6 separate regions of the Homo sapiens genome follow, and all the other regions are linked to region 6. The links come from fine-mapping of genetic effects on gene expression. A gene starts in region 6. Each other region holds a variant in brackets. All regions are shown on one strand. Distances are between the middles of the regions. Region 1 overlaps RSU1 (Ras suppressor protein 1). Region 2 overlaps RSU1 (Ras suppressor protein 1). Region 3 overlaps RSU1 (Ras suppressor protein 1). Region 4 overlaps RSU1 (Ras suppressor protein 1). Region 5 overlaps RSU1 (Ras suppressor protein 1). Region 6 holds the start of RSU1 (Ras suppressor protein 1).

What was found. PIP is the estimated chance that this variant, and not a neighbour inherited with it, causes the effect.
Region 1: its variant is the best candidate, but not a certain one, in a credible set for the expression of RSU1 in whole blood (INTERVAL, PIP 0.57).
Region 2: its variant is the best candidate, but not a certain one, in a credible set for the expression of RSU1 in whole blood (TOPMed, PIP 0.51).
Region 3: its variant is the best candidate, but not a certain one, in a credible set for the expression of RSU1 in whole blood (INTERVAL, PIP 0.54).
Region 4: its variant is the best candidate, but not a certain one, in a credible set for the expression of RSU1 in cerebellum (GTEx, PIP 0.86).
Region 5: its variant is the best candidate, but not a certain one, in a credible set for the expression of RSU1 in whole blood (INTERVAL, PIP 0.74).

Annotation. Positions count from the first base shown.
Region 1 is chr10:16,616,709-16,621,804 of GRCh38, forward strand. The region is part of intron 8 of RSU1 (Ras suppressor protein 1); the gene reads right to left. Among named protein-coding and RNA genes, the nearest start is that of C1QL3, 97 kb to the left of the region's middle. The variant G/C (reference allele first, on the strand shown) is at 2,201.
Region 2 is chr10:16,712,030-16,717,125 of GRCh38, forward strand. All of the region lies in intron 7 of RSU1 (Ras suppressor protein 1), which reads right to left. LOC124902384 (a long non-coding RNA gene) reads right to left here. Exons shown (of 2, transcript XR_007062072.1): 2 at 3,968-5,096. Among named protein-coding and RNA genes, the nearest start is that of RSU1, 100 kb to the right of the region's middle. The variant G/T (reference allele first, on the strand shown) is at 2,233.
Region 3 is chr10:16,752,607-16,757,702 of GRCh38, forward strand. It overlaps RSU1 (Ras suppressor protein 1), which reads right to left. Exons shown (of 9, transcript NM_012425.4): 5 at 2,265-2,383; 6 at 312-394; 7 at 1-47. Among named protein-coding and RNA genes, the nearest start is that of RSU1, 62 kb to the right of the region's middle. The variant A/G (reference allele first, on the strand shown) is at 2,428.
Region 4 is chr10:16,793,596-16,798,691 of GRCh38, forward strand. The region is part of intron 2 of RSU1 (Ras suppressor protein 1); the gene reads right to left. Among named protein-coding and RNA genes, the nearest start is that of RSU1, 21 kb to the right of the region's middle. RefSeq lists enhancers at 1,872-2,091, 2,302-2,361. The variant T/C (reference allele first, on the strand shown) is at 2,421.
Region 5 is chr10:16,590,197-16,595,273 of GRCh38, forward strand. RSU1 (Ras suppressor protein 1) reads right to left here. Exons shown (of 9, transcript NM_012425.4): 9 at 415-3,300. The coding sequence ends at 3,198. Among named protein-coding and RNA genes, the nearest start is that of C1QL3, 71 kb to the left of the region's middle. The variant T/TAAAG (reference allele first, on the strand shown) is at 2,982.
Region 6 is chr10:16,814,367-16,819,443 of GRCh38, forward strand. It overlaps RSU1 (Ras suppressor protein 1), which reads right to left and starts at 3,058. Exons shown (of 9, transcript NM_012425.4): 1 at 2,949-3,058; 2 at 2,607-2,718. The coding sequence starts at 2,715. LOC105376435 (a long non-coding RNA gene) reads left to right here and starts at 3,333. Exons shown (of 3, transcript XR_930708.3): 1 at 3,333-3,390; 2 at 4,315-4,376. RefSeq lists enhancers at 2,537-2,696, 3,367-3,476, 3,507-3,596, 3,627-3,676.

The DNA of each region.
Region 1 (5,096 bases), 200 kb before region 6:
AGCATACGCAAATCAATAAAAGTAATCCATCACATTAACTGAATCAAGGACAAACACCACATGATTATCTCCATAGATGCAGAAAAGGCCTTTGATAAAATTCAACATCCCATCATGCTAAAAACTCTCAATAAACTAGGTATTAATAGCACATATCTCAAAAAGATCTGTTTATGACAAACTCTAGCCAATATCATACTGAACGGGTATTCCCTTTGAAAAATGGCACAAGACAAAGATGCCCTCTCTCACCACTCCTATAGTATTGGAAGCTCTGGCCAGGGCAATCAGGCAAGAGAAGGAAAGTATTCAACTAGGAAGAGAGGAAGTCAAATTGTCTCTGTTTGCAGATGACGTGATTGCATATTTAGAAAACCTTATTGTCTCATCCCCAAAACTCATTAAGCTGATAAGCAACTTCAGCAAAGTCTCAAGATACAAAATCAATGTGCAAAAATCACAAGCATTCCTATACACTAATAATAGATAAGCAGAGAGTGAAATCATGAGTGAGCTCCCATTCACAATTGCTACAAAGAGAATAAAATACCTAGGAATCCACCTTACAAGGGATGTGAAGGAACTCTTCAAGGAGAACTACAAACCACTGCTCAAGAAAATAAGAGAGGACACAAAGAAATGGAAGAACATTCCATGCTCATGGATGGGAAGAATCAATATCATGAAAATGGCCATACTGCCCAAAGTAATCTATAGATTCAATGCTATTCCCATCAAGCTACCATTGCCTTTCTTCACAGAATTAGAAAAAAACTACTTTACCTTTCACATGGAACCAAAAAAGAGCCCATATAGCCAAGACAATCCTAAGCAAAAAGAACAAAGCTGGAGGCATCATGCTACCTGACTTCAAACTATACTACAAGGCTACAGTAACCAAAACAGCATGGTACTGGTATCAAAACAGATATATAGACCAATAGAACAGAACAGAGACCTCAGAAATAACACCGCACACCTACAACCATCTGACCTTCGACAAACCTGACAAAAGCCATGGGGAAAGGATTCCCTATTTCATTAATGGTGCTGTGAAAACTGGCTAGCCATATGCAGAAAACAGAAACCAGACCCCTTCCTTACACCTTATACAAAAGTTAACTCAAGATGGATTACAGACTTAAATGTAAAACCCAAAACCATAAAATCCCTAGAAGAAAACCTAGGCAATTCCATTCAGGACATAGGCATGGGCAAAGACTTCATGACTAAAACACCAAAAGCAATGGCAACAAAAGCCAAAATAGACAAATGGGATCTAATTAAACTAAAGAGCTTCTGCACAGCAAAAGAAACTACCATCAGAATGAACAGGCAACCTTCAAATGGGAGAAAATTTTTGCAATCTACCCATCTGACAAAGGTCTATTATCTAGAATCTACAAGGAACTTAAGTAAATTTACAAGAAGAAAACAACCCTACCAAAAAGTGGGCAAAGGATATGAACAGACACTTCTCAAAAGAAGACATTTATGCAGCCAACAAACATGAAGAAAAGCTCATCACCACTGGTCATTAGAGAATGCAAATCAAAACCACAATGAGATACCATCTCAGACCAGTTACAATGGCAATTATTTAAAAGTCAGGGAACAACAGATGCTGGCAAGGCTGTGGAGAAATAGGCACACTACTACACTGTTGGTGGGAGTGTAAATTAGTTTAACCATTGTGGAAGTCAGTGTGGCGATTCCTCAAGGATCTAGAACCAAAAATACCATTTGACTCAGCAATCCCATTACTGGGTATATACCCAAAGGATTATAAATCATTCTACTATAAAGACACATGCACACGTATATTTACTGCAGCACTATTTACAACAGCAAAGACTTGGAACCAACCCAAATGCCCTTTGATGATAGACTGGATAAAGAAAATAGGGCACATACACACCATGGAATACTATATACACCCATAAAAAAGAATGAGTTAAAGTCCTTTGCAGGGACATGGATGAAGCTGGAAGCCATCATTCTCAGCAAACTAACACAGAAACAGAAAACCAGACACCACATGCTATCACTCATAAGTGGTAGTTGAATGATGAGAACACAAAGACACAGGGAGGGGAACTCACACACTGGGGCCCGTGGTGGGGTAGGGGACAAGGAAAGGGAGAACATTAGTACAAATACCTAATGCATGTGGGGCTTAAAACCTAGATGATGGTTCATA[G/C]GTGTGGCAAATCACCATGGCACATGTATACCTATGTAACAAACCTGTGTGTTCTGCACGTGTATCCCAGAACTTTAAAAAAATTATAAATAAAATGGGCATTCCACCTGCTACCTAATAGAGTAGTTATGAGGACTGAACATCAGGTACTTAGCACCTCATTGAGAATGATTCCCTTAGAGGACAATGTTTACAATTCTGACCAAAATACTCAAAACACGTCTACTATGAAGTGCTAAGAAATTAAAAATGAATGGCAAGACAGATGGAAGCCTGCTTCAGAAAAATATTACTTGATAGAATACTCACGTAGTTTACAAAATATTCTATGCCTTCTGCCAGCAGCAAGCATCTACCTGGCAGTATGTGACAGAGAGTAGCATGTTTTCACCTCACAGTCTTCTCCACGTGGTTCCAGATAGGAGTCTTCACTAGGGAGAGCTGATGGTGACATGATCTACCATCAATGTCCCCTCTGTGATGTCAACGGGAACAACTGCTGTGATTCACAGTGAACCAATCTAGGCACATCGGGTTCCCTGCTCTTTCTCTTGGGAGGTACCACTTAATCTCACCCCAGTGTAGCATTAAAACAGAAACAGAGGGAATGAATCAACTGTCCTGCTTCCCATCAGTAGGTATCTTCACTGGGTTCCCTAAGGAAGTGCCTCGTGTGTTTCCTTGAACAAAAGGTGGCAGGACAGAGCCCTCAGCTCAATGGTACATCAAATAAACTCTGAAAGACTCCTGAGCCTAGACTTATGGACACATGGACAGAATATGGTCATTTCTTAGCTAGAGTTACAGAGAAAAAGCAACTTTGGCAGTTATGTTAGCTATATCTATCTCCCTTCACTTTTAACTTACAAATTTCATTTTCCAAAGAAGTAAAAATATATTGCAACCCATTTAGAAATTCACAAGGGAGTTCAAAAGAAAACTGCAGAAGTATCCCACTTAAACATAACTTCTGCTTCTATTTTCGTATATTTCTTTCAAGTTTTCATCCAAGGTACTTAAAAAAACAAACCAGTAACAATCACAGGGTGCCAACAGGTTTATACATTTATATAAAAATTATGACATCAGTATACCACATACTCATAATTATTGACAGGCTACCTATGAATTCATGCTATGTTTCATAATTAACGTGAACATTGCTCTGTTTTGGGGGAAACTGCTTCAAATATTCTGCTTTATCAGAATAGCAATGTCAGTGGTGTGGCTTTGAGCAGGTTATTTAACCTATCTGAGGTTCAGTTTTTCTCATAAAAAAGTAGGGATCAATAATATTAACCAGCAACATTAAAGTGTTGTGAAAGTTAAAAGCGAAAATGCACTTTAAGTATCTTGAAAAAATGTAGGCTGCTGTTGATGTCAATAGTGGATGATAGTGAAGTAATTTCTCACGGAGTTTTCTTGAAAGGAATCACATCTACATATAAGCAAAAAACAGTGAGGAGGGGAGGGAGGATCTGCTCTTTCATTTACACATGAGATTTCTTTGGGAACTGACATTCAGTGGGGAGACCTAACTCACCTCTACAGTGGGGGAACCAGATGTGGCCTCAGCAGGTCTCACGAGAGGTCAAGACAATCTTCCATTTTTGCGGGAGGGGAGTTACTGGCATATGTACAAAATGTTAAAAAAAAAAAAAAAAGTCTCGCTCATGCCTGTAATCCCAGCACTTTGGGAGGCCGAGGCGGGCGGATCATGAAGTCAGGAGATCAAGACCATCATGGCTAACACGGTGAAACCCCGTCTCTACTAAAAACACAAAAAATTAGCTGGGTGTGGTGATGGGTGCCTGTAGTCCCAGCTACTTGGGAGGCTGAGGCAGGAGAATGGTGTGAACCCAGGAGGCGGAGCTTGCAGTCAGCTGAGATCGCGCCACTGCACTCCAGCCTGGGCAACAGAGCGAGACTCCATCTCAAAAAAAAAAAAAAGTCTCAAAAATGGTAGTGAATTTTATTTTGTAAAAAATTCCTCCCTCTCTTCTTTCCATTTTGAACAACAATGCAAACTGGGCAGTCCTGAAACCAGAATAGGTGCAGAGAGACTCTAAAAAATTCCCTTGCAGTGTTTTTTCAATCTGCGTACTTAACCAAGTAACAGTTTAAGACCAAGGACACACAGAAGAATTAAAGCAACAAAATGACTTATGTGTGACTTATTTGTGACACAGGCACAGTAGTAACCTGTGCAATTCTGCCTCTGCCAGGGGATATTTGGCAATGTCTAGGGATATTTTTGGTTGTCAATTGTCACACCTTGGGCGCCTGTGGGGGTGTGTTATTGGCATCTAGCAGGTGGAGATCAGGGATGCCACTGAACATGCCACCCTGCACAGGACATCCTGGCCCAAAACATCAAGAGTGCTAAGGCTGAAAATTTCTGGTGTAAGAAAAACTTACAGGTAAAATTAAATCTGAGGCCCCTACGAATATTAACACTATGGACACTGGCTCTGTTTCCCGTACCCAGCCTCAGTCCCTGAAATGTAACATTTCCTTCCAGTAGTGGTTCCCAAAGGTGTTGTATGAGAAGATTCTATGTGTACACTGATGCAAGTTGTCAATTTTAATGACTGTATTAGTCTGTTCTCACACTGCTAAGAAAGACATACCCAACACTGGGTAATTTATCAGGAAAAAGAGGTTTAATGAACTCACAGTTCCACATGATTGGGGAAGCCTCACAATCACGGTGGAAGGTGGAGTAGGAGCAAAGGCACATCTTACATGGCGGCAGGCAAGAAAGCTTGTGCTGGGGAACCCCTCTTTATAAAACCATCAGATCTCATGAGACTTATTCACTATCACAAGAACAGCATGGGAAAAACCTGCCACCCATGATTCAGTTACCTCCCACTGGGTCCCTCCCACGACACAT
Region 2 (5,096 bases), 100 kb before region 6:
TATGTATTTGTTACAATATTCTCTTATTGAATTTATCCTTTAATCATGACATAATGACCTTTTTTCTTTTTCCAGTTTTTGACTTAAAATCTGTCTTATCTGATACAATTATAGCTACTCCTGCTCACTTTTGGTTTCTGTTTGTATGGAATATGTTTTTCCATTCCTTCACTTTCAGTTTATGTTTGTCTTTAATGATGATGTGAGCCTCTTGTAGCCAGCAGATAGTTGGGTCTTATTTTTAAAACCTGTTCGACCACTCTGTGTTTTTAAATTTGAGACTTTAATCCATTTATATTCAAGGTCATATCAATAAAAATTTATTCCTGCCATATTGTTGTTTTCTGCTTGTTTTGTAGATCCTTTTCCCCTTTCTTTTACTCATGTTATTTTCCTTCGCGGTTTGGTGGTTTTCTGTGCTGCGAAGTTTTGTTTTCTTTCTCTTTACTGTTTATTATTCTGTCGTAATTTCTTTCTTTGTGGTTACCATGGGGCTAACATAAGAGTCTTGTAGTTACAATAGACTACATCAACCTGATAGCAATTTAAATCTGGTTGCATGAAAATATTCTAGACTTAACCCCATACACAATTAATATTTTTGTTGCCTTAATCTACTTATTTATTATATATTTGTAGCCACTAAGTGTGGTTGTTGTTGTTTTTGACCTTTTTGACTTCTAAGTCTTCATACTAGAGGATTGAGAGATTTACATAGGACCATTAAATCACTAGAGTATTTTATGAATTTACCTCTACTAGTGAGTTTTACACCTTCACATGTTTTCATGATAATTATTGTCCTTTCTTTTCCAGTGGTAGCACTCCCTTAAGCATTCCTTATAAGGCCAACCTACTGGTCACAAATTCTCTCAGCCTTTGCTTGTCTGAAAAGGTCTTATTTCTCCTTCATTTCTGAAGGATAACTTTGTTGGATATAATATTCTTGGCTGACAGTTCCTCCTCCCCACAAGCCCCCCTTCTTTCAGCACTTTGAATATATCATCCCATTCTCTTCTAACCTGCAAGGTTTCTGCTGAGAAATCTACTAGTAGTCTAATGGACATTCCCTTGTGTGTGATGTGACACTGTTTTCTTGTGGCTTTTAAAATTCTGTCTTTAACTTTTGAGAGTATGATTATAATGTGCCTCAGAGAGGACTGAATCTAACTGGGGACCTCTGAACTTGCTGAATTCCTATGTCCGTATTTCTGCCAAGACTAGGGAAGTTTTCATCTATTATTTCATTACATAGGTTTTCTGTGTCTTTCTCCAACTCTTCTCCCTACGAAGTTCCTATAATGCACACATTTGTTCATTTAATGGTATCGCATGAGTCCCACAGGCTTTCTTCAATTAAAATTCTTATTTTTTTTTCCCTCTGACTGGGATAATTCAAGAGGCCTGTCTTCAAGTTCAGAAATTACTCTGCCTGATCTAGTCTGTTGTTGAAGCTTTCACTTGCACTTTTTATTTCATTCATAATTCCTCAGCTCCAAGATTTCTGTTTGGTTCTTTATGACACTTATCTTTGTTGCATTTCTCATTCGGATGATGAATTGTTTTCCTGATCTCACTGAATTATTTGCTGTATTCTCTTGTATCTCCATGAGTTTCCTTAAGATTATCTTATTTTCAGGCATTTCATAAATGTCCTTTTCTTTGGGGTCTTTTACTAAAGACTTATTGTATTCCTTTGCAGGTATCACATTTCCTTGCTTTTTCACATTGCTTGTGTCCCTATGCTGATATCTGAACATCTAGTGGAATAGTGACCCTTTCCAGGTTTATGAAGTAACTTTCATTAGGAGATAATTCTTCCTGTAGATAGGTCCCAAGGTGTCATTTGAGTGTGGTGAGTTAGCTTTAGTTCTGGGTGGACTCAGTAGCATGGTCTACATGTAGTTTTTTCAGCTGCAATCTTCATCAGCAATGTCTGCAATTGCCTCAATGGCCTATGCTGTAGGTATTTGTGGTGGTCGTAGTGTGTGGTTTTGCTGGGAGTAGGGGTGTTGGGCTGGCTGTTGGGCTGAATATGTATGGGTGTGGAGGGCGAAAAGGCTCTCCAACAGGCTTTTCAGGGAGGTGGGGCCACCACTAGTCTGGCTGTTGGGCTGAGCTTAGGTGCATATGGGTGTGGCTAGCTGAGCAGCTACGTGGCTGTCTCTTCAAGAGGATGGATGAAGAGTCTACTGGTCTGATGCTGTGCCAGCTGCACATAGGTGCAGCTGT[G/T]TCAGGTGGCCCTGTAGGAGTCTGTCTAGAGGAGCAGGTCCACCACTGGCCCAGCTCTTGGGCTGGATGCCAGTGTGAAATGGGGTTGGGCAGCCTTGCAGTTATTTGGGAGGGAGGGCTGCTACTGGACCAGCTGTCAGGCTAGACATAGAATAGCAGCATTCAGCTGCTCTTTGGGTGTCTGTATGCGGGAACGAGGCTGCCACAGGACCAACAGTTGGACCAGCTATGGATGCACCGCGCTTGGTGGGACAGGTGGCTATGGTGCAGGTACGTGCAGGAGAGGTAATTGGCTGACTGTTCAGTGACTTCAGCACCGTACAGATCTGCCTGTTCCCTGGGGGGTGGGGGGATGTGGTGTGTCACTTGGGTTTGAACACTGGGGTCTCAGTCATTCCATGTGACCTATGCTTTGGGTAGCTATGGTCATAGTGCTGCAGGTACCTGTGTGAATGTGGTATAAGGACAGCTAGGCCTCCAGGATGAAAAGAGTCAATTGCTACTGGTGCGCAGGGCAGGATGCACTCTAGCAGTGGGAAAGGTTCAAGATGGGACAGAGTTGAAGCTGCTTAGGTTGCGGGTCCTCAATGTGGACACTGAGGCATTGCATCTGTGTGAGCTCCCGGCTACTCTCCAAACTGGATTGGGGGCCTGTGAAGTTTAGGGGACTCCTATATCAAAGACTGCTAGCATTTCTGGTGGCAATGGGGACTGCTGGGAATCACCAGCATACATTTCCCCATAAACAGCACCCCATGACTGCCAAGTCTCCACTGGGGGAGACTGTGGCAGAGGCAGGATGCCTCGCTCACCTGTCCATGGTGCTGTCCTGGCCTTCCATGCACCACAGGAAGTTTGCTGCTCCCCTAGTGCGGTCCAGCATACTTCCTCGTCACTCTAGTTGAAATATAGTTGTTTACTTGTTGTTTAGATCCCCTTTTGGGGGAGGGATGAGCACTAGGCAACTCTCATTGGCCATATTGCTCTGGGTTGCCTTTTCATTGTGTTGATGTTGTCTTTTGATGCACAAAATTCTTAAATTTTCATGAAGTCCAATTTGCCTATTTTTTCTTTTGTTGTCTGTGCCTTTGGTGTCATAGCCAAGAAGTCATCTTAAAGTCCAACGTCTTGAAGATTTTATCCTACAATTTCCCCTAAAATTTTTATAGTTGTAGTTCTTACATTTAGGTTTTTTATTCATTTTGAGTTAATTCTTCTATATGTTATTAGGCAAGGGTCCAACTTCATTCTTTTGCATATGCCTATGTAGTTTTTCACTTCATCATTTCTTAACAAGACTGTCTTTTCCCCATTGAGTGGTTTGGGCACACTTGTCAAAAAATCACTTGACCATTTAGGCAAGGATTTATTTCTGGGGTCTCTATTCTATTCCATTGGTCAATATATCTGCCTTTAGGCCAGTACCACACTGTTTTGACTACTGGAACTGTAGCAAGTTTGAAATCAGGAATTGTTAAATCCTTCAGTTTTGTTCTTTCTCAAGGTTGTTTTGACTACTTGAGGTCTGTTGCAATTCCATATGAACTTTAGGGTGGGATTTTCTATTTCTGCAAAAAACATCAGCGAGATTTTCATAGCGAGTGCATTAAATCTACAGATTGCTTTAGATAGTGTGATATACTTCACTAATAGGTCAGAACAAGTATTTTTAGCAGGTTGCATTTAAATATAGGCAAGCATTTCCCTATTCAAGAGTCAAAACAAAGTAGAAAAATTTTTCTTAATCAGATAATTTATTTACACAGTCTTTAAAAAGAACAAAATCTCATGTAAGTATATGTTGAACAAATCTTCTTAAAAGAATAAAATCTCCTTAGTCGGAATTCTTGATGAAAATCATCACACAGAGATTATGGAAACTGAAACTATCTCAGAAAAAGTTCAAATGTAGGAAAAGGAAGAACGGGTCTAGATAGGGCATCAGAGAGACGCCTTCACAGGCAGGCTAAGGGAGGTGGGTGCCAGGGCCAGGGCATAAATGTTCAACTGAGTGTAGCAGGACTACGATGTTCTGTGGGAGGCTTGGAGCTCTTGGAGTTGAGGTGTTATATTTTAATCTATCTTTATTTTTAAGAGTAGAAACGTCTACACTATTGCAGAGAAAAAGCCATGACTCACTTTTCACAATGTACATGGCTGATCCTAAGCAGTTCTGAGAGCCCTCACATATTTCTGCAAGTTTGAAAATGCTGCTTTCTCTGGGAAGTCGGGTAGGGAATGAGAGGCAAAGGGGATATGCCCTCCTGATCCCTGCCACCTCCTTCCATACATGATATGAGCACCAAAAGACCACACTCATCAGGTGAGATAAGAAGACTCCAGGGGACTGCCTCTTCAGGAGGCACTGATAAGCGTATTTCAACCTTTGATCTATAACCACGTATACAAATACACTATTGATAACATTACTTAGAAAAGGAGTCTGACCATGATCTAGATGCCTGTACAACTAAAGAGCCCTTTCAGAGAAGTTTGGAGGGTATGAAGCGTTATTAAATTTTAATTTCTAAAATATGTAATAGGAGGAAATGACTTCTTAGATACCTTCATAGGAGACAAGAGGTCAAACAAATACAGACTGATTTCATCACTGTGCATATGATCACGTAATCTTAATATTCATCTTAAGAACCTTCCCTTTTTAATGTCTAACCTCAAACCCTGTTGCTAAAAAAGTATGGGAATTTTTTCAGCCAATAGGACAAATACTGAAGTTTAAATGTCATTGTAATATATTACTAGACACTTGCTCATAGGGAAGTATGAAACGAAATTAACTTTATTTTTTTATTTACATATAAATACCCTTGAATCCAATTTTATTAAAGGTTAAGTAAGGGATC
Region 3 (5,096 bases), 62 kb before region 6:
CCGATTTCCTTAGGCAGCGAGATCAGGTCGTTATCCCTAAGGCTGAGCTAAACAGAAGAAAACAAGTTGTCAACATATTTACACATTAAAAGGTGCTCCACAGAAACTCTCATCCTCTATGTCCTCTCTTCTACTAAAGCTCAATCCTTTCCATGTATTTACAAGTGCCGGCGGATAATCAAGAAACACTATCAGGAGTAGTGGTTTATTCCCACAAAACAAACCTTACTCCTGCTCAAATTGACTTGATTCTACCCCTACAAGGCTGCAGCAGTGAATTGATTTTCTAAGAATTTAGATAAATTACTTACTATCTGCAACTTTGTGAGCTTCCCAATATCTGGCGGCAGGATTTCAAAATCGTTGTCACTTAGATAGAGTGCACGCAGGGTGGCTGCAAATTAAACAGCAATATATAAACAGGGTGGCATGGAACACAACCATTTGAGGTCTGATCAATACGAGGGAGTCAGCTTTGATTAATAACCCTGGCTTGGTGAAAAGCCTTTGACATACCTAGGGCTCCCAATAATAACAAGCAGGTCAAACTTAGATTTACTGGCTTATTGTGTAGCTGGTGTGTCCAGGAAAACATCTATATCCAAGAGGAATGACGCAATTAACAACTGTGGGCGCCAGCATTTTGGGGCACAGAGTTTCAGCACATTTTCAGAAAAGATTGCTATACTTCTCATAGATTACTTTTGATTCACATTTATTTCTCCATTTGCATCCAAAGTAAAACAAAGAACACTACTGTGCCACTTTTATGGATACCTAGGGCAAAAGGGTTCTTTCAAGAGAATACAGCTCTGTTAAAATAGACCTTTTCCTATGTAAATAGCACTGTGTTACAAATTAATGGAAGGCTTTCTGGTGATGGAGGCTATAACCACAGCTCATCAGTTCCATAATCTGACTAATTATTACTACGTGTTTCTACAGCCTTAAGGACAAAAGTAAATGAAGACAAAGAGGCTAAAATAATGACATGAAGTTAACAGAGTAAATCCTAACTTAAGGAGAATATCAGTAGTCAGAAATTTGTTCATAATTATTACACAATGATAATACGATTCCAACCTACTGAAGGCTAAAATTCTAAAGCATCTGTTTATCTTCAACCAAAAAAGCTGAGTATAATTAGATACATGTTTTGTTTACCCGTATTTATTTTTTAGAGACAGAGTCTCGCTCTGTCACCTAGGCTGGAGTGCAGTGGGTCACTGCAGCCTCAAACTCCTGGCCTCAAGCACTCTTTCTACCTCAGCCTCCCAAGTAGCTAAGATCACAGGCTCATGCTACTATGCCTGGCTACTTTTTAAATTTTTATTTCTAGAGACAGGGTCTCTCTATGTTGCCCAGGCTGGTCTTGAACTCCTAGCCTCAAGTGATCTTTGTAGCTCATACTCCCGAGAACTGCATGTTAATATAACATAATAAAAATAGTTGCTCCACTGCCCAAGAAAATATTTTATAGTTGGTTTCATGTGCTTGAGAAAGTCATAGAAAGGTAATGTACGTAAGGTAAAAAATAAAATTTTAGAGATCAGCTCTGAAAATTCAGATTTTCTGAATGCCACACAAGTTACTATTTGAAGAAATAGAACACTGATTTAAGGGAAGCAAACCTTGTCCAAAATAGTGCATGAGTTCCCAGAAGAAATCATTTTTTAATTTTCAAAAGCATCTCCAGCAAGAAATTTGTTTGCATATGAAAGAATAAAGTGTGTTCACCTGTGGCCAATAATTTCTTAATGCCTGTGTACTGGATAAATAGGTCAATAAGAGTACTTTTTAAAAGGCTCAAAATAGGAATACTGGCTGGAAAATTTTAAAATTGTGTTACTGGTTTATTAATAAATATTTTTAATAAATAATTGGTTGGAATATCCTGGGCAAATATCCTACAAAGAATTAATAGCAACATAGGAAGATACTTTTTTTTTTTTTTTTGGCATGCTATTTAAAAAGAAAGTCAAGTCTCTTAGCTAAATGTGAGGCTTGATCTCATTTAGGTATATAATCTCTCTCAGAATGTTAATATGACATTACTAAGTCCACTTCAGCCCAATGGTGTCACATAACGATCTATCAAATGCACATACTGCTGAGCTACGAAGGAATATTCAAAAGGAGTCTCTAAAGAAAAAATTATCTCTGTCCAATAATTTCTCTTGGAGTTTGGGTCCTGGCAAATAAATTTCCCTCTCAGAACGCAAAGTACAAGGTTGAGGAGATTTATAGAATTGAAAGTTTCTTACTCAGGTAGAAGAAGTTTCCAGGAAGAGAATTTTCGCTCAAGTTGTTGTACGTCAAGTCCAGAACCTCAAGAGCTGGCAGGGAGCCGAAGCCTCGTGGCAAAGTGTTCAGCCTGTTCATGCTGTTGCAGGGGGACAAAAATCTATGTCATGACACCAAAGACAC[A/G]TTCATACAGACTATCAAGGGCACCTCTGTTTCAGACGCTGAAAGTGTAAGACAGTGCCATGATCCTAGAGTCACTTTATACTTTATTTTTATTTTTTATTTTTTTGAGACAGGGTCTTACTCTGTTGCCTAGGTTTTAGTGCAGAGGCATGATCTCAGCTCACTGCAGCCTCAACCTCCCCAGGCTCAAGCGATCCTTCCACTTCAGCCTCCCAAGTAACTGGGACCACAGATGCACGCCACCACGCCCTGCTAATGTTTGTATTTTTTGCAGAGATGGGGTTTTGCCATGTTGCTCAGGCTGGTCTCAAACTCCTAAGCTCAAGCAATCCTCTCACCTAGGCCTCCCAGAATGCTGGGATTACAGGCGTGAGCCCCCATGCCCATCCTTTTTTTTTTTTAATTAAAAAAAGCATTTATTTAATATTTACAATGACAAAGATTGTACATACTTATGGTGTACAACATGATACTTCTGATGTATGTATACTACATCATGGAATGGTTTAAATCATACTATTTAACACACGCGCTGCCTCATATGCTTGTCATTTTTTTTGTCTTTTGTGGTGAGACTGCTTAAAATTCACTCTCTTAGCAATTTTCAATTATACCACATATTGTTATTAACTGCAGTCACCATGATGTACAATCCATCTCTTGAACTTATTTCTCCTAACTAAAATTTCATGTCCTTTGGCTAACATCTCTGCAATTCCCCTCTCCCTCCAGCCTGTGGTAACCATTTTATTCCCTGTTTCGATGAGGTTTACTTTTTTACATTCCACATATAAGTGAGAAGGTGTGGTATGTTGTCCTATTTAGGCTAATAATTTCAGTCAGACAGCTTACATGATCTTGAAACACTTGAAAATTTCTTAGCTGTTATTTTCCTCCAACGGTGAAACTTAATCACTGCTTTACACAAAAACTCAAACCATTACAAAATATCTTTCCTTGTAAAGAACAACTTCCCTATGAACGTAGTGATAATATCTCAAAATATACACATGAAGCTTTGTAGTTTTCAGGCTTTTGCTTGATTTCATTCCATTTATTCCTTTTTTGGAGGGAAAATCATGTTTTTGTTCTACAACTGCTAACACTGAAAATTATCTTCAATTAGAATGGTGATGGCCAGGGGCTGGAGGGAGGGGGAATGGAGAGGTGTGGTTTAATGGGCGTAGGATTCAGGTTTGCAAGATGAGAAAATTCTGGGGATTGGCTGAACAACAATGTGAATACGCTTAACACCACTGAACTGTCTACTACAAAGACGGTACATTTTGTGTGCATTTTATCACAACCTAAAAAATTTTTAAATCATACAATTGACCCTTGAGCAACATGGGTTTGAACTTCCTGGGTCCAATGAGACATGGATATTTTTCTTCTACCTCTGCCACCCCTGAGACCGCAAAACCAACCCTCCGCTTCCTCCTCAGCCCACTCAACATGAAGAGGACGAAGACCTTTAAGATGATCCACTTCCACTTAAAGCACAGTAAATGCACTTTCTTTTCCTTACGACTTTCTTAATAACATTTTCTTTTCTCTAGCTTACTTTATTGTAAGAATGCAGAATAGAATACATGTAACATACAAAATATGTGTTCATCAACTATTTCTAGTTTTGGTAAGGCTTCCAGCCAACTGTAGGCTATTAGGAATTAAGATTTTTCGGAGTCAAAAGTAATGTGTGGATTTTTGACTGCATGAGTCATTGTGTTGCTCCCGCAACCCATGTGTTGCTCAAGGGTCAATTGTGTGTGAGTGTGTGTGTGGGGTGTGTGCTGTGTGTGTGTGGTATTGTGTGTGATGTTATGTGTATGTGTATCTGGGTGTTTCGTGTGGTGTGTGAGGGGTGGGGTGTGGTGTGTGAAGGACGTGGGGGGCTGTGTGGGGGCGGGTATGTGTGTGGTGTGGGGTAGGTATGAGTGTGGTGTGGTGTGTGTATAGGGTGTGTTTGGGGGTGTGGTGGTGTGTGTGTACGCAGTGTGTGTGTGGTGTGTGTGTGGGTGTGTTTGTACACGGTATGTGTGTGTGCTGTGGGTGTGGTGCGTGTGGGTATGTGTGGGTGTGCGTGTGTGTGTGTGGGCGTGTCTCCAGTGAAGTCTAAGGGAATTTTTTTCTACACTATCTTTTATCCTTTCTTCAAGCCCCTTATTTTTCTTAACGCAGTTCCCTTTGAGCATACTTAAAAGCCAATTTTTAAAAAAAAAATTTAATAAAAGTTGACAGATACTGAAAGGTGGAAGGGACTGTGACAATAAAAATCATTCTAGCCATCGATCCTTCTCCTAACACATTCAGCTCCATCCAGCCCTACCAAGAGGGCCTCACCAGAAACAGCTGACAGCAGAGGGGGCAACCAAAAGGGAAACGCGGGTTCCCCCTGTCAGGCAGAAAACTTCCCAGACAGACTACACCCAGCAAAACTACCTCCACGACTATCTACTGCCACGACAGCAAGAACAAACATTCTCCATGAAGTCACAATTTGTGAAGCACATTATGGCAAGGACTTCGCTTGTTCACTAAAACTACCTTGCAATACAGGTAAGATGGAGCTTGTCATTAATGCTATGTTGAGATGAAAAAACAGCCTAAGAGAGGGTGAGGAGCCAAGACTTCAGAAGTGACTGATGAAGGCGACATGTGTCTGGAAA
Region 4 (5,096 bases), 21 kb before region 6:
GATGCCTGAGAGAATTAAAGAGAAAAATATAGTAAGCCACCTAAGATATGCAGTCACTGGATGGTATTAACAAAACTTGGTGAGCTACAGCTACTCTGCAAGCCACTGTACTTCTTTGGTGGGACAGGGATAGAATATGAGTGAGATGCAGCTGCTGCCCTCAATGAGCTTCCTCTGCAATAAGGAGATGAAATAAAACACTAGGATACAATACAGAAAGTGATGGTGAATGTTATTTGTCAACTTGACTGGGCTACGAGATACCCAGATAGCTGGTAAAATGTTCTTTTCCAGGGTCTGTGAGGGTGTTTCCAGAAGAGATTAGCATTTGAATCAGGGGACTGAGTAAAGAAGACCTACCCTTGCCAATGCAGGTGAGCAATAACCAATTCATTGAGCGCCTCAATAGAATAAGAAGGCAGAGGAAGGGAGAATTCATGAAGATCCATCTTCTCCTGCCCTCAGACATCAGAGTTCCTGGTTCCTGGGCCTTCAGATTCTGGGACTTGCATCACTGACACGCACCCCTCCTATGACTCTCCAGCCTTTGGCCTTGCACTAAATTACATTACCAACTGTCCAGGTTCTCCAGCTTGCAGACAGCACATCATGTGACTTCTTAGCCTCCATAATCACCTGGGCCAATTTCCATAATAAATCTCCATATATATATTGCCTATGGATTCTGTTTCTCTGGAGAACTCTGACAGGCAGACTTGTACCATAAAAGTACTAAGGTGCTTTGAAACTCCCATTAAAAGGGAAGTGCCTGAAAATTTTTTTAGGGTTAATAAAACCTTCAAGGACCAGAGTCCATTTTGTTTTATTTCTAACTACCTTCCTCCTCTGTCTCTTCTTTTTTCTTTTTAGCTTGTTTGTATTGACTAATTTTTCTAGCATAAACTATTTTATTTGTGTAACACAAAACTTATGCAGTTTTAGAAATCATGGTTATAGAATGTTGGAGCCAAAGGAACTCTAGAAATCAAACAACTTAAGCTCCTCAATTTACAGATAAGAAAACAGTGGGCCAGAGAAGTAAAGGTATTCTAAGATTCCACGGGCCAGCAGAATCAGAACAGAGTACAATCAAGGTTTCCAGATTCTAAATCTTGAGCTTCTTCTTTGCAAACTGGAAAATTATTATTGACACCTGGATGGAATGTCCTTTATGACAGCAATTCCAACCATAATAAAAATAATATAAACCTGAATGGAAAATTCCTTCCTATCTAGAATAAAATAAGACACAAAAGCAAAGCAAAGAACGCACAGTTCCTAGCAGGTGAGACCTGCCCTGTCATCCCATGAGATCCTGAGAAAAATCACTGGATTGTTCTGGAGCACAAATTCCTCATCTTTAAAATGAAACAAATAAAAGAGAGAAAAAAGATTATTTATGTAATGACCACTACATCACTGTGTTGTGCTGAGCACTTTACATATGTGTTCACTAGAATCAAAAATGTTAGAACAGTCCCGGCGTGGTGGCTCATGCCTGTATTTCCAGCACTTCGGGAGGCCGGGGCAGGCAGATCACCTGAGGTCAGGAGTTCGAGACCAGCCTGGCCAACATGGTGAAGCCCCATCTCTACTAAAAATACAAAAATTAGCCAAGTGTGATGGTGGGTGCCTGTAATCCCAGCTACTGGGGAGGCTGAGGCAGGAGAATTGCTTGAACCCAGGAAGCAGTGGTTGCAGTGAGCCGAGATCGCGCCACTGCACCCAAGCCTGGGCGACAGAGTGAGACTCCATCTCAAAAAAAAAAAAAAAAAAAAATTAAAAAAAAATAAGGTAATAACAAACAACAATAGCTAATGCTTACCAAATGCTTAAAACATGACTGGCACAGTTCTAAGAACTTTATCAATTCACCTATTTCTCACGATAACCCTACAAGGCAATAGTAGTCTCTTCTTCCCTCTCAATTTTAGATGAGAAAAATGAGACACAAGAGGTTATGTAACTTGTCTGTGATTTCAGAACTAGTAAGCAGAGAGAACCCCCTAAAAGCTGTTTCCAAACAAGAAGCTGATTAATTCTGATACTGTCTTACTGGCTAAACAAATATGCCACCGGTTGCATCCACAATTTGCCAACTGCATGGCATTTTATGATGTTCAAAAGACAAGGAGTTTAAGTACACAGGTTGTTTTTTTGCCAAAGTTAAGACATGAGCAGTATTAACTGTGCACACTTTGCATTTCAGAAAATTGGGTGTATCTTCAACCCCCCGGACCCCTAAACAAGCCGCCCAGGTGAGGCACCGGCACCCTCTTCCCAGGGGCTGATGTCAGACGTTTCTCTATCACTCTCCATTCTCCGCTTGAGCAGCAGCTCTCTGCGTCCGCCTCAACCTTCCCCCATACTTCTCACCTGAACCTGGCCCCACATTTCCCTGGGAAAAGTAAACCTTCTTT[T/C]CAAGCAGGAGGAGCTGGAATCCTAAACCTGCTGTCTGTACAAAAGCCACATGACTCTTGGAGCTCTAAGAGTTCTAAGTCCCTCAACAGTCACTAAATATTAGAAGACCATGGTGTGCCACCTGCTCTTACCCGAAGGCAAAACATGATTTGGTCTCGTAGGCAGCTCAACCATTATTTTTAACCTTGGATTTTGATTCTCTCCCCACATGTCATCCCTTATCCTGGCCTCCAAGTGTTGCCTTCTCCAATCCTATAACCAGTCACCTAGATTGACATTGATCATCAATCAGCCCCTAAGTCAAACTTAGGTGTGTTTCTTCTGATCTGCTCCAGGGCCTCGCTACGTCTTCACTGTGTGTGATGTCTCTTCTCCCAGTCCTGCTCCAGTCCATTCCCTCCACCTTTCTCTCAACACTGCAAACAAATCTGCCATCAATGACACCCACAAACCCTCACCCTCTTGTTCTTTCCTCACCCCAAAGGCCCATTAGACTCTTCACCCCTAAATCCCCCTCTTATCAGAGCTCCCACAATGGCAGCTTCAAAACAGACTATGCCACTGCTCAACAAGTATGAAATTGTCAAACTGTTCATCACAATGATCATTTTTTGAGTACCTGGTCTGCATCAGATACTACATACACATTATCCTTCATTTGAGGAGAAGCTTATTTTTCCCACTGTACCAAGGAGGAAAAAGTGTAGGTGCAGGAAACGTGGAGGCAGCATGGCAGATTTTAGGAATCCTGAAACCCTACATCAAAATAGAGAAACTAGGCAGCAAGAAAAAATTCAAGGACACAATTTACAACAAAACTAGGTTATAAAGTGTCCCCACAAAAAACTCCAAAATACAAGTAGATGAGGACAAGCTACCAGTAACCCAAAGATTGGCATGATATCAGCATGCATGTGACGAAAGCAGAGAGAACCCAAGGGGCAACTAACAAACTTGACAACTGAGAACCCCCGAATAGCTAAACAAATTCACCAGAAAGCCCAGAAGACCTCTGTGAGAATAGCAGCTGAAATTAGGAAGGGTTTGCCCATTCCAACAGCAGGGCCTGCAGTAGGGTCTGATGGATTAGGACAAGTCTAGGCCCTGTGACCTGGAAACTGACCACCTAGGGCTCCCTTGCAGGACAGGGCCTAGAATCAAAGCTGGATAAGACAGAAATAATAGAGACCAATGATAGAGGCACACTGCCTATAGGGTAGCCCTACTCCACAAGGAGCAGTAAGTAAAAATAAAACGCTTTTAAAAAGAGAGAGAAAAAGAGACCAAGGATAGAGAAGATCCAGATAAAAGTGGGCAGAAGGACTGAACCAAGTCATCTGAAAGCAAGCCACTGTATTTCTGAAAACTACATAAAATCAACCAGAGGACAGAGCTCTGTAAAGTTAGAAAAGCTATCTAGAACTAAGCCTTCCTCTGAAAGTTTAGGAAAATTAATTTCATTTAAAAATGAGCAACATAAAAAATATTGGGAGCAAATCCCATAACGTTATTATGGAATAAAAGGAAAAAGAAAGTGTAGAAGAACATCATTGACCATGAAAACTCACTAACCAAAAAGATGCCCAGAACACAGGGCAAAACTATAATTGACTATTTCAAAACAAGGTAAAAAGCCATTACAACAATGATACATGACACAAAACAGAAACATAAATCTGATTTCCAAAAATTCAGCAATAAAGGGACAAAACTTAAGAAAAAAATTAGAAACAAAAAAAATTATTTCAGAAATGAAAGCTAAATTCAAAGACATATAAGAGCAAATAAACACAATACGTAATACTTTACAAGAAACAGAAGTTAAAGTGGGGATTTCTTCTTTTTTTTTTTTTTTTTTTTTTTGAGATGGAATCTCTCTCTGTTGCCCAGACTGGAGTGGAGCGGGGCAATCTCGGCTCACTGTAACCTCCGCCTCTCGGGTTCAAGGGATTCTCCTGCCTCAGCCTCCAGAGTAGCTGGGATTATAGGTGCCCACCACCACGCCCGGCTAATTCTTGTATTTTTAGTAGCGACGGGGTTTTACCATGTTGGCCAGGCTGGTCTCGAACTCCTGACCTCACCTGATATGCCTGCCTCGGCCTCCCAAAGTGCTGGGATTATAGGCATGAGGGATTTCTTTTAAAACAAAGAAATGAAGCAAGAACAGGGATCTGGGCAAAAGTGACAAATATTAAAGATGGGCAAAAAAATCAACATACAGACCCCAGAAAACCATAAAGAACATAAGGAAAGAGCTCATAGACTAAAAATCACAATAAAAATACTTTCTTGAAATAAAAGGTATTTAAAAGTTCTGATATGGTTAGGCTGTGTTCCCACCCAAATCTCATCTTGAACTGTAATCCTCATAATCTTCGTATGTCAAGGGAGAGACCGGGTGGAGATAACTGAATCATGGGGGTGGTTTCCCCCATACTGTTCCCCCGATAGTGAGTTCTCATGAGATCTGATGGTTTTATAAGGGGCTCTTCCCCCTTCGCTCAGCACTTCTCCATCCTACTGCCTTGTGAAAAAGGCACCTTGCTTTCCCTTCCGCCATGATTGTAAGTTTCCTGAGGTCTCCCCAACTATGCTGAATGGTGAGTCAATTAAACCTCTTTCCTTCATAAATTACCCATCTTGAGCCGTTCTTTGTAGCAGTATGAAAACAGACT
Region 5 (5,077 bases), 220 kb before region 6:
CCTGAGGCCAGGAGTTCGAGACCAGCCTGGCCAACATGGTGAAACCCCGTCTCTACTAAAAATACAAAAATTAATTGGGCGTGGTGGCGGGTGCCGGAATCCCAGCTACTCGGGAGGCTGAGACAGGAGAATCGCTTGAACCCGGGAGGCGGAGGTGGCAGTAGGCTGAGATCACGCTATTGCATTTCAGCCTAGGTGACAGAGAGAGACTCCGTCTCAAAAAAAAAAAAGGCCACCTTTCAAACTTTGGATATTTTGTTTGCTGATCCAGATATCAAGTAACTAAAAACTGTAGGAAAAGACGTGAAATCCATTTTGGTAACAAAAAGAGAAAAAACCCTCCTGACATTTTATATTATGCCTTGAGCTTAAATATATATTTCCTGGATTGCATAATATACCATGACATACCAATTTGATTTTGAAAAATACATGCATTTAATATTTTCTGATTACAAAAGTATATGTGTTCATTAGAAAAAATTTAAGTACAGAATGAATAAGTAAAATTCTAGAAAGTCTTAGTTCACAATACAGAGATAATTTAACTGCCTTAAAATAATTGTGTTCACCTCTATTTAATTTTTATGCACACGTATTACAAACAAGCTTCCTTTTGACACAGCTGGGACCATCCTTATATAGTTAGTTTTAAAAATCTTGCTTTTTCTGTTTAATCAGATGTTATGATTCTCTCCCTTTGCCCTTATTGTTGAACAATTTTTTTTTCTTGGGAACGGAATCTTGCTCTGTCGCCCAGGCTGGAGTGCGGTGGCTTAATCTCAGCTCAGTGCAACCTCTGCCTCCCGGGTTCAATCAATTCTCCTGCCTCAGCCTCCTGAGCAGCTGGGACTACAGGCGCATGCTGCGACGCCCGGCTAATTTTTTGTATTTTAGTAGAGACGGGGTTTCACCGTGTTGCCCAGGCTGGTCTCAAACTCCTGAGCTCAGGCAATCTTCCCACCTTGGCCTCCCAAAGTGTTAGGATTACAGGCATGAGCCACTGTGCCTGGCCGTTGTTCAACAATTTTTAATGTCATAAAAGCCTCATGCAGACACACCGTAATTCATTGAACCCCTTTTCCACTGACAGGGATCAGGCTTTTCTCTGTTTTTCTTGTGTATGCAATGCTATAAGGACAATTCCTAAACATTGCAGTTTGTGGGGATCTCGGATAATTTCCTCAGGATACATTCCTAGAAATAAAAATTCTGGGCCCCAGTACACAATCTTAAGGTTTTGCCACCTATCGTCAAACTGCTACGGCCTTTCTGGAGCGAAATTTATATTCCCAGTAGCCATGTGAAAGAATGTTTATTTCATGTTACTCCTCTTGCACTTAATACTGCCTTAAAAAATATTTGCACATTTCTCTTTGTTACACATGGCTTCTTTTTGCTTTGATCTGTATACTTTTTAAAAATATTACCAGTGAGTCTTCGATGATTGCTTCATGTTTCTGGGAGGTATTTCGTTCCTGTGCGTTTCTGGAGTTTTCATCTTTTGAAAAAAATGACTCATAAGAGCCCTTCATATTGTTAGATTTTTACTAATGCTTTCTTGCTGGTTTAATTTTAGGTTAAGTCTTTCCTATCCACAACAGCAAAGGCCTTGTTCTCCCTCGTGCAATCTCAAAAGCTCAAAAGTCAATTAAAAAAATTCAGGCAGAGGCATACATGGCACCTATAAAAATGATATCAACTCTATCCCTAAACAGGGGATGGGACCTGGGGAAGCCACTTCCCACATTTAAATGTTCTATCAGGAATTTGTCTAGAAGCCAGAAGTTTAGACCTTGCTCTGTGGCCTCTCTGATTGAAATGCGAAGTCTGTTTCCTAAGTAACTCAGAACTTGTTGTTTGATTTTGATTTTTGACTTTTTTATATGCCCCAGTGGGTCCTGGTCTTGGGAGCTCAACTGGGAAGCCGAAAGGATACAGCAGAGATTTTATATGCCCCAGTGGGTCCTGGTCTTGGGAGCTCAACTGGGAAGCCGAAAGGACACAGCAGAGAAGGGCAGGCCCCCTCTCCCAGGCCATTTGACTCTCCCAGGCCATTTGAAAAGACGGTGCATCTTCACATACCATTTTTTTTGTGTCGGCCTTCTGGGGTTGACAGCCCTTTCAGTGAGCACAAAACCTCAGCTTGCATTTATTTTGATTTTCGTAGGTATCACTGTTGAAAAGAAGGAAAGCTGCCTATCACAGATGTTAAACAAACAATTGATTGTTTAATGACTCTGCAACTGTGGTTTCCACCCTGGGTGTGGTGTAGCGCGTGCACATTTACACAACTTCCTTGGCATCGAAGTCGCTTAGAAGAATGCTTCGATGCGAGCAGATTTTCCGCCGTGACAAAATACACAGTTGAGGTTTTTTCTCTCTCTCTTTCACAGTTCTTGTCTACCAGCCCCTGGCAGAAATCACCATTTCTTCGGCGAAGGAATGCTACTTTCCAAAATCCTTTGGCAGAATCTCCTAGAGATTTGTTTTTCTGCTTCCTAATTTAGAAAGTCTTCAAAGAAAAAAAAAACTTGACAAATTAATGTGAGAAGAAACGAACTGTGATTTAATTTTGCATTTCTTTCATGAAAAGTTTATCATGTATAACCAATAAAATTGGATAAGATGATTTTGGGGGAGAAAAGTAAATGAAAATGTGTTATACCCCAAGATCAGACTGTTCTTTTATTCTGAGTCAATAAGTAACATGTGATACAAACTCAAGATTTTATTAAAATCATTTGTAAGTTAAATTAGCATATCTCGGTGGTGAAGGAAGACTTTTAATAAAGCAAAATAATGAGTTAGGTGAATCAACAGAAAGAGTGAAAAGTGTTAACAGTGACATTTAAATGGTTACATGATTTTAATTATTCTTTTGATAATAAGCAACCTTGTGATATCTATTCAAGAAAAGCCAGAGCCCACTATGGAATTCGCAGTTGAATAAGAGCTTTGTTCCCTGCTTTTGGTAATGT[T/TAAAG]AAAGAAACAAATGGAAATGGTTTAAAGACCTTATAACAATCTCCCACCTAGCAAAAGAATCTAAAAGGTAAGGTGGGAAGCATTAGAAAGAGAGTGAAAAGAAAAATAAAAAAGGCCTCACACGCAGCATTGGGTTTATTTGAGAGACAGGGCAAGAGAGAATGAAGTGTTGGAGAGAGAAGGTGCTGGAAGGCCAGCCGATGCCAATCCCTTCCTTATCTGTTCTTGGCTGCCAGGGGTTTCCGGCTGATCTTTTTCGATTTGTCATTATTCTTCTTCGGTGGTTCTGGGTTGGCCTGCATGTGTCTGCCGTAGAGGCTGCAAAGACAGAGAAAGGACACTATCAGATCTATTTTGCCAACACAAGATAGCTTTCACTGGAAGAGCTTTCAGGAATAGAAGAATCTCCAAAAATATTCAGTAAGCCAAAGAAAACCAAAAGATCACTTCTGTGTTCTCTGGGTGCTACGCTGTGTTGAATATAAAATTCTCTTACACATGCACGCCATGCCATGATGTCCGATCACGGACCAGTCTCTTGGGATTTCACACTCACTGGGAGAAGTGGTCAGGCCCTGCTCAGCCGTTCTGGACTGAAGTTCAAAAGCTTATGAGTGTTTAAGTCGACAGTGATAAAAATGGGATTGAATGGAAGAGACAGAGTGTCCATTTAGTGAAAAGCGAGCATGATGCTTGGCCCGAAAGCCCAGGGGCTGGCTAATGGGACAGAGAGCAATGGTGTCCAAATCTGTGCTGGCTGCTCACCCATGATGGATAGCGTGGGGCTGGCCACCACACATCAATGCCACATTAATAAGTACCGCTGATTAAATGCTGACAAAGTGCCCTATAATTACGGTGGATGGCATTCATTGCGCAGCGAAGCTGGCTCCGTGGCTGAGAGGATTTAACTGAACAGCAGAAGGTAATTAATCGATAATTTATGAGTAATTCTGATTAAACCAAATTAAAAGCCACCCTAAAATAAATACAGCTCAAACTTAACTCCTTTTATTGATATAACTGTGTCTCCAAGAGAGCCTGGTGGGTGTCTCAGGTCCTCTGCAGCAAGGGCATACCCGGCTCCACAGCCCGCAGTTGCTGTGAATGAGGGTTGGCACAGAGCCTGACGTCCCTGTACCAGGTGGCCCAGCTCCAGCATCCACACAAGGAATATGCACACTCTCTGGATGCTGGCATCTTGGGCTGTTTAGCATATACTGGCGTCCGGCATTTTTTTTTTTTTCCTGAGTGTCTCACTCTGTCACTCTGCTCCCCAGGCTGGAGGGCAGTGTATGATCATAGCTCACTGCAGCCTCAAACTCCTGGGCTCAAGCGATCTCATGGCTCAGCCTCCTGAGTAGCTGGACTACAGATATATGCCACCATGCCTAGCTAATTAAAAAAAATATATATATCATATATAATATCTATTATATGATATATATGATAGATAATATGATATATATGATATATATCATATATTATCTATATCATATATTATCTGTATATTATATGTATCATAGATAATATATGATACATATAGATAATATATCATATATATCATATAAAATATACTATATTATCTATTATATATCATATATATATATATTTTTTTTTTTTTGAGATGGAGTCCTATTGTGTTGCCCAGGCTGGAGTGCAGTGGTGTGATCTTGGCTCACTGCAACCTCTGCCTCCCAGGTTCAAGCAATTCTCCTGCCTCAGCCTCCTGAGTAACTGGGCTTACAGGCATGCACCACCATGCCCAGCTAATTTCATATTTTTAGTAGCAATGGGGTTTCACCATGTTGGCCAGGCTGGTCTTGAACTCTTGACTTCCAGTGATCCACCCACCTTGGCCTCCCAAAGTGCTGAGATTCAGGCGTGAGCCACCATGCCCCAACAAAAAAATTATTTTAATAGACATGGGGTCTCACTAGGTTGCCCAGGCTGGTGTTACACTCCTGGCCCCAAGCAATCCTCCTGCCTTGGCCTCCCAAAGTGGGATTACAGGGATGAGCCACTGTGCCTGGCGTCCAATACTAGTGTTCTTGATGACATCTCCACCATGGCTGACAGGCAGAGGGGAAGGGCT
Region 6 (5,077 bases):
GAGCCTGGGAGGGTGAGGCCCCAGGGAGCTGTGACTGCACCACTGCATTCCAGCCTGGGTGACAGAGCGAGACCCTGTTTTCAGGAAAAAAAAAAAAAAAAAGAAAAAAAAATTCTTACACTTATAATTAATGTAGCCATGTGAAGTATTTTAATACTTGTATATATTAAGCACTGTGTCAGTGTGTGTGCACTGCTGAGAAGTGAGCCCTGGTGGAGGCTTCGAAGAGCATCCTGGAACCCCCTAGGCTCCGAGAAGTCCTGAGGTCAGGGAGTTTGCAGAGAGCAGCCTTGGCTCAATGCTACAGAAGCCAGAGGAGATGGAATCTGCAAATCTCCAAATTCACTTCCACCCAACTTCCCAAAAAGTACTATTATCCGTTGTTAGCTACTTCTTTAGGAAAATTTAAGAATGATCTCGCTTTTCACCACCCAATGTTATACCGGAAATATATTTCAGGAAGCAAGTGGCTTTTCTTCCTTAATAAAAGCCAAGGCTTCAAAGAGATAACGGAGCTGAACCGAAATAGCTAAGCCATTCTCCCCATTTATAAATATTACATAAAGTCTCCTCTTCAAAAGCCGAAGGGTACAAAGCTCCTCTGCTGAAAGCAGCCTCTCTTCTACCTGGTGAGAATGAGTGCTGTAGGGAGGAAGGCCATGGGGCCAAGGTTCCCGCTATGCATCATCTTCCCTATCCCCTTCTCTTTCTCCTCTGTATCAACAGTGCCCCCAATAATGACCATGGTCATGGCAGAGCCGGGCAGGCGCAGCAAGGGGCAAACTCAGATATCCAATTCCAGAGGCATCTGCTCAGTTGCTGACAGCAAGGACCCTTACGGAATGCAAGAGACCAACACACACCAAGCCTGAGAGGCTAACTAGTACACAACCTAAGTTTAATGGCACGTATTTTCATAAAGCCTACGAAACGCAAATCTACGTTTCCTCCCTTTTCCTTCTGCCAAGACATATCAATAGCATCAACTCCAACCTCTGTCCCAGGCAGGTTTTCGAACCGTGAAAACCGTGAATTCACAGTAAACCTGACTCTGCAGTTCTCTCCATGCCTAAATGGCTATCCATCGCCTTTCAGGGTCTCCTGAACATCTCCCTTCTTCTCTCTTGTCACATCCTGGAGTTGATATCCCAAACTCACAGGCCTAATCCATCATTCTTTCATTTTCTTCATTCCTCAACTATTTTTGAGCATCTACTGTGCTCCAGGCACTATTATTAAAAAAATGCAAGCATGAATATTGCACAGCTTTTGTCTTCCCAATGTCCCAGCAGAGAAGAGAGACTTCTAGATTAAAAAAGAAAAAAATCAGTACAATCCTATGTGAGAGGAGTCACAAAGCAATACACACGACCACCTTCACAGAGGAGGGAAGGGATATGTTAGCCTGGTGCAGACGGATAAGGTTTTACACAGGTGGTGATGTCTAAGCTGACTCTTAGAAGTAAAAGGATTTCAGGTGCAAACGACTGAGAAAGAGGGAAAACAGAATTTGTAAAGGCACCAAGATCTGAACGAGTAGGCTCTGGTCCAGGAAGGGCAACAGGTTCAGAATGGCTGGAATGCCAGCTGCATGGAAGGGTAAGGTTGTGTTCAGATTCAGAAAGGCCTTGTACATCACGCCAAGAAACCTGGAGCATTACCGTCGATAATGGACAACCTGGAGAAGTGCGGAGAGGGTTTAAACCAAAGCCACGTCAGCCTGAAGAACTGCTTTAGCTCACTTATCACAGGTTTTTCAAATATTAGAATTAGTAGCCAACATCTAAAAATTAGCAAATTTCACATAAAAATATAGAATCTTGGTTCCTTTAAGAAAATAATCTGGCACATTGGGCCAACATTCCTATGGTGACATGTGTCTGAGTAGCAGGTGCAGCAGCTGGCCCCTTCAAGTGGGACACCTATCACCTAGTTCATAACCGCCCCTGACCGCCCTCACTTGGAGGCATGTGAATCTGCAATCCCTGGTTTTAAGGGAGAGGGTAACACCATAGACAGGGGTTACAGGAAAATGACACTGAAAGTGACCCAGTGATTAAACTGGGCAGTGAAACTGAAGGCAAGAGGGCAAGTTAGGAGGATTTCACCACAGCATGAGGAGGTGACAAAAGCCTGAACCAAGTTCGGAGAATAAATACTCAGAAGAATGTAAAGATTCAAGAAATGCTTAAAACGCTCCAGGCACAAGAATGCTTATTAACCATGGAACTTTTCTGTGTCATTTGTTCATGGACAAAGACTGTATTAGGAGACAGGAAGAAGGACTCAAAATTAATTTTCAATTTATAATTAAAGTGACTATTAAGCAAACTGTGGAAAATCCACCTCAATGCCATACAGCAGAGACAACCGATGAGGCACAGCTGTCTGTGTGATTCTCATCGTGGACTCTCAGGATCGTTTTCCAGGTGGAACAGAACAAATCCTACTGCAAACCCTCTGCGCGAAGCCCCTGACAAGTGAGGTTTACAAGCAGGGGCTGGGGTCTAAACCAGTACAATCGCTCACAGCAGGACCAGCAGTGAATTGGCAAACTTAGAAAGCCTTCCAGCTCATCCACGGGAGAGTCCTGCCCGAGAACTCACAGAGGCCGTTGACATCCAGCATGTTGGAGATGCCCCGGTCACTCATGTCCACCTCGGGCTGGTTCTTCTCCCGGCTCTCCTCCACCAACTTCTTCAGAGACTTGGACATGGTCTGCACCGAACAACAACAAAGCACGTGGGCGATGACAGCAAGCGCAGAGGCGGAAAGGCAAGAGGCCTTCGCTGCCACTCTGAGGCTTCCCCAGGGTTGGAGCGGGTGGGCGTCCGAGGGCGTCCCAGGGGCTGGTCCGGGTGCGGGGAGGGGATGGAGTGGGAAGGGTTCAGCCCCGCTGCGGCCACGCAGCGAGAAGCAACCCCAAGTGCAACACCGCACACACTCACCACGGAAGGTAGCCCCTAAGACGATGGGCGTGCAACCACAAGCTTCGGCAGAACGCACTCCAGCTGCCCTCACTCCCTGCAACACCGGCACTGAACAGCGAACACGCCCTGTCTCGGCGCCCCGCGCAGGCGCACACAGCGCCGCTGCCAGCTCCACGCCCGACCCTACCCATATTAGGAGAACAGCTCTCCAGACGTGTCTCCAGGGCCAGGCTCCGCCCTTAAAAGTCTGTGGAAGAGGCTGGCTAATCACGTTCGTTATTCGGCTTCGAGACCCCGCCCCACGCTGAGGATAGTTTATCCCGGTGGCGTCCACCCCACGGTTTGGGACGCTGATTGGGCCGAAGTTGGCGCGTGCGCAGTAGACTTGGCGCAAGCTCAGTTGATGGGTCGAAGCCCAGAGGGCTGTGGGCGGAAGTGGGGAAGTTTGTGGCGTGACTGTGTAAGGGAGGGTGGTGGCTCAGGGTGGGTGTTGCGAAAGCTGGAAGTAAATTGCTTCCGAATGTTTCGCTTGTGTAATAGCCGCTCCACTCGCCAGAAGTTGCTACCCTGAGCCCGTCTCCACAATGTGCCTCTGAGGGACCTTGTGGGGCACGCAGTTTCCCGCCCTATTAAGAGCTTCTCCAGGCGGGGATTCCGGCGCGGTCTGCGTTTCCCCAGCGCCCTGCTGGAAATCTTTTTTGACAGGTTTCTAAGGCTGGCTTTTAGCCTTTTTACTTGTAGCTAGAACCTACAAGTAAAACCCTACTATTTTAAAAGTCATTTGAAAACACCACTAAAGCGATGTGTCTTTCCCAACTAGGACTTTTACATTTGTGAAACATGACGTTCTGGCTTCCAGGAATCTCTTGCTTTCTCTTCCAAAAGCAACCAAATTTTAAATTCTAGAGAAACTGTTGCCCTCTGCCTCCCTATTTCCTGACCCAGTCTCAGTCACCCAGCAACATCCTGTGCTTCTCTCACCAAAAACCCTGTCCTGAGAGACTATTTTATACTATGGAATAAAAATTGGCACCAGGCACTTTTCTTCTACTGGTCACCTAAATTGATGATAAGACGGATGCCACACATATGCATTTATATATTGTAGATTGTAGCAGGGATCAAAGCCTTAAGGAGATGTGGTAAAATAATGTAATTATATCTCCGAACCAATTGGATAAAAAAAGGATCTGCACTCTTAAATTCGAAAGCAGGTATTTCTTGCTTAAAAAACATTCCAGATGAAAGAGTTATTCCTCCATTAGTCTTCTTTGATCTGGAACCGTCCTTGGCTTTTATGTTTATTGAACTAGACATTATTTAAGAATACAGACCAGGTATTGTGTGGAATATCCTTCAAAGTAAGTTTGATGTTCCCTTTCAGGTTATGAATTTTTGGAGAAACACCACTAAAGCGATGTGTCTTTTCCAGTGCATGATATCAAGGTACAGATGGCATCGGTTTCTCCCAGTATAGGTGATGTTCACTTAAATAAGGTAGTGTCTGCCAGGTTTCTTCACCATAAAGTTACTATTTTTTTCTTTATGATTAAAAATAATGCTGGGGGGAGGTGCTACTTGATTACACCCCATTCCTCATCTAATTTTTACCCACAAGTTTTAGCATCCACTGATGATTTTCTAACTTCATAATTTCATCAATACGTATTAGTAGGTAATCTCCTAATACATTTATTTCTTGAATCATTAACTCTTTTAAAGCAAAAGTCCTGTTTTGAAGCAATCAGAATTTTTCTTATTCTATCAATTTCTAATAGTGAATCTTGCCTAGGTAGGCTGAAGACATACAGTACCTGTGTTAGTCGGCTAGGGCTGTCGTAACAATATACCACAGCCTGGATGGCTTAAACAACAGAAATTTCTCACAATCCTGGAAGTTCTAGATCAAGGTGCCAGCAGATTTGATTTATCCTGTGGCCTCTCCCCTGCCTCGTGGACGACTGTCTTCTCTTGGTGTCCCTCCAGGGCATTTTCTCTATGCAGTCACACCCTTGGTGTCTCTTCTTCTAAGGACACCAGTCCTATTGGACTGCCGGCCTATAATAACACCCTGCATTTGTTTCATGAATGTACTCTCTTCTCAGGTATCACCGAGGATAATAGTTTTTAAACCTCTCTTCTGTTCA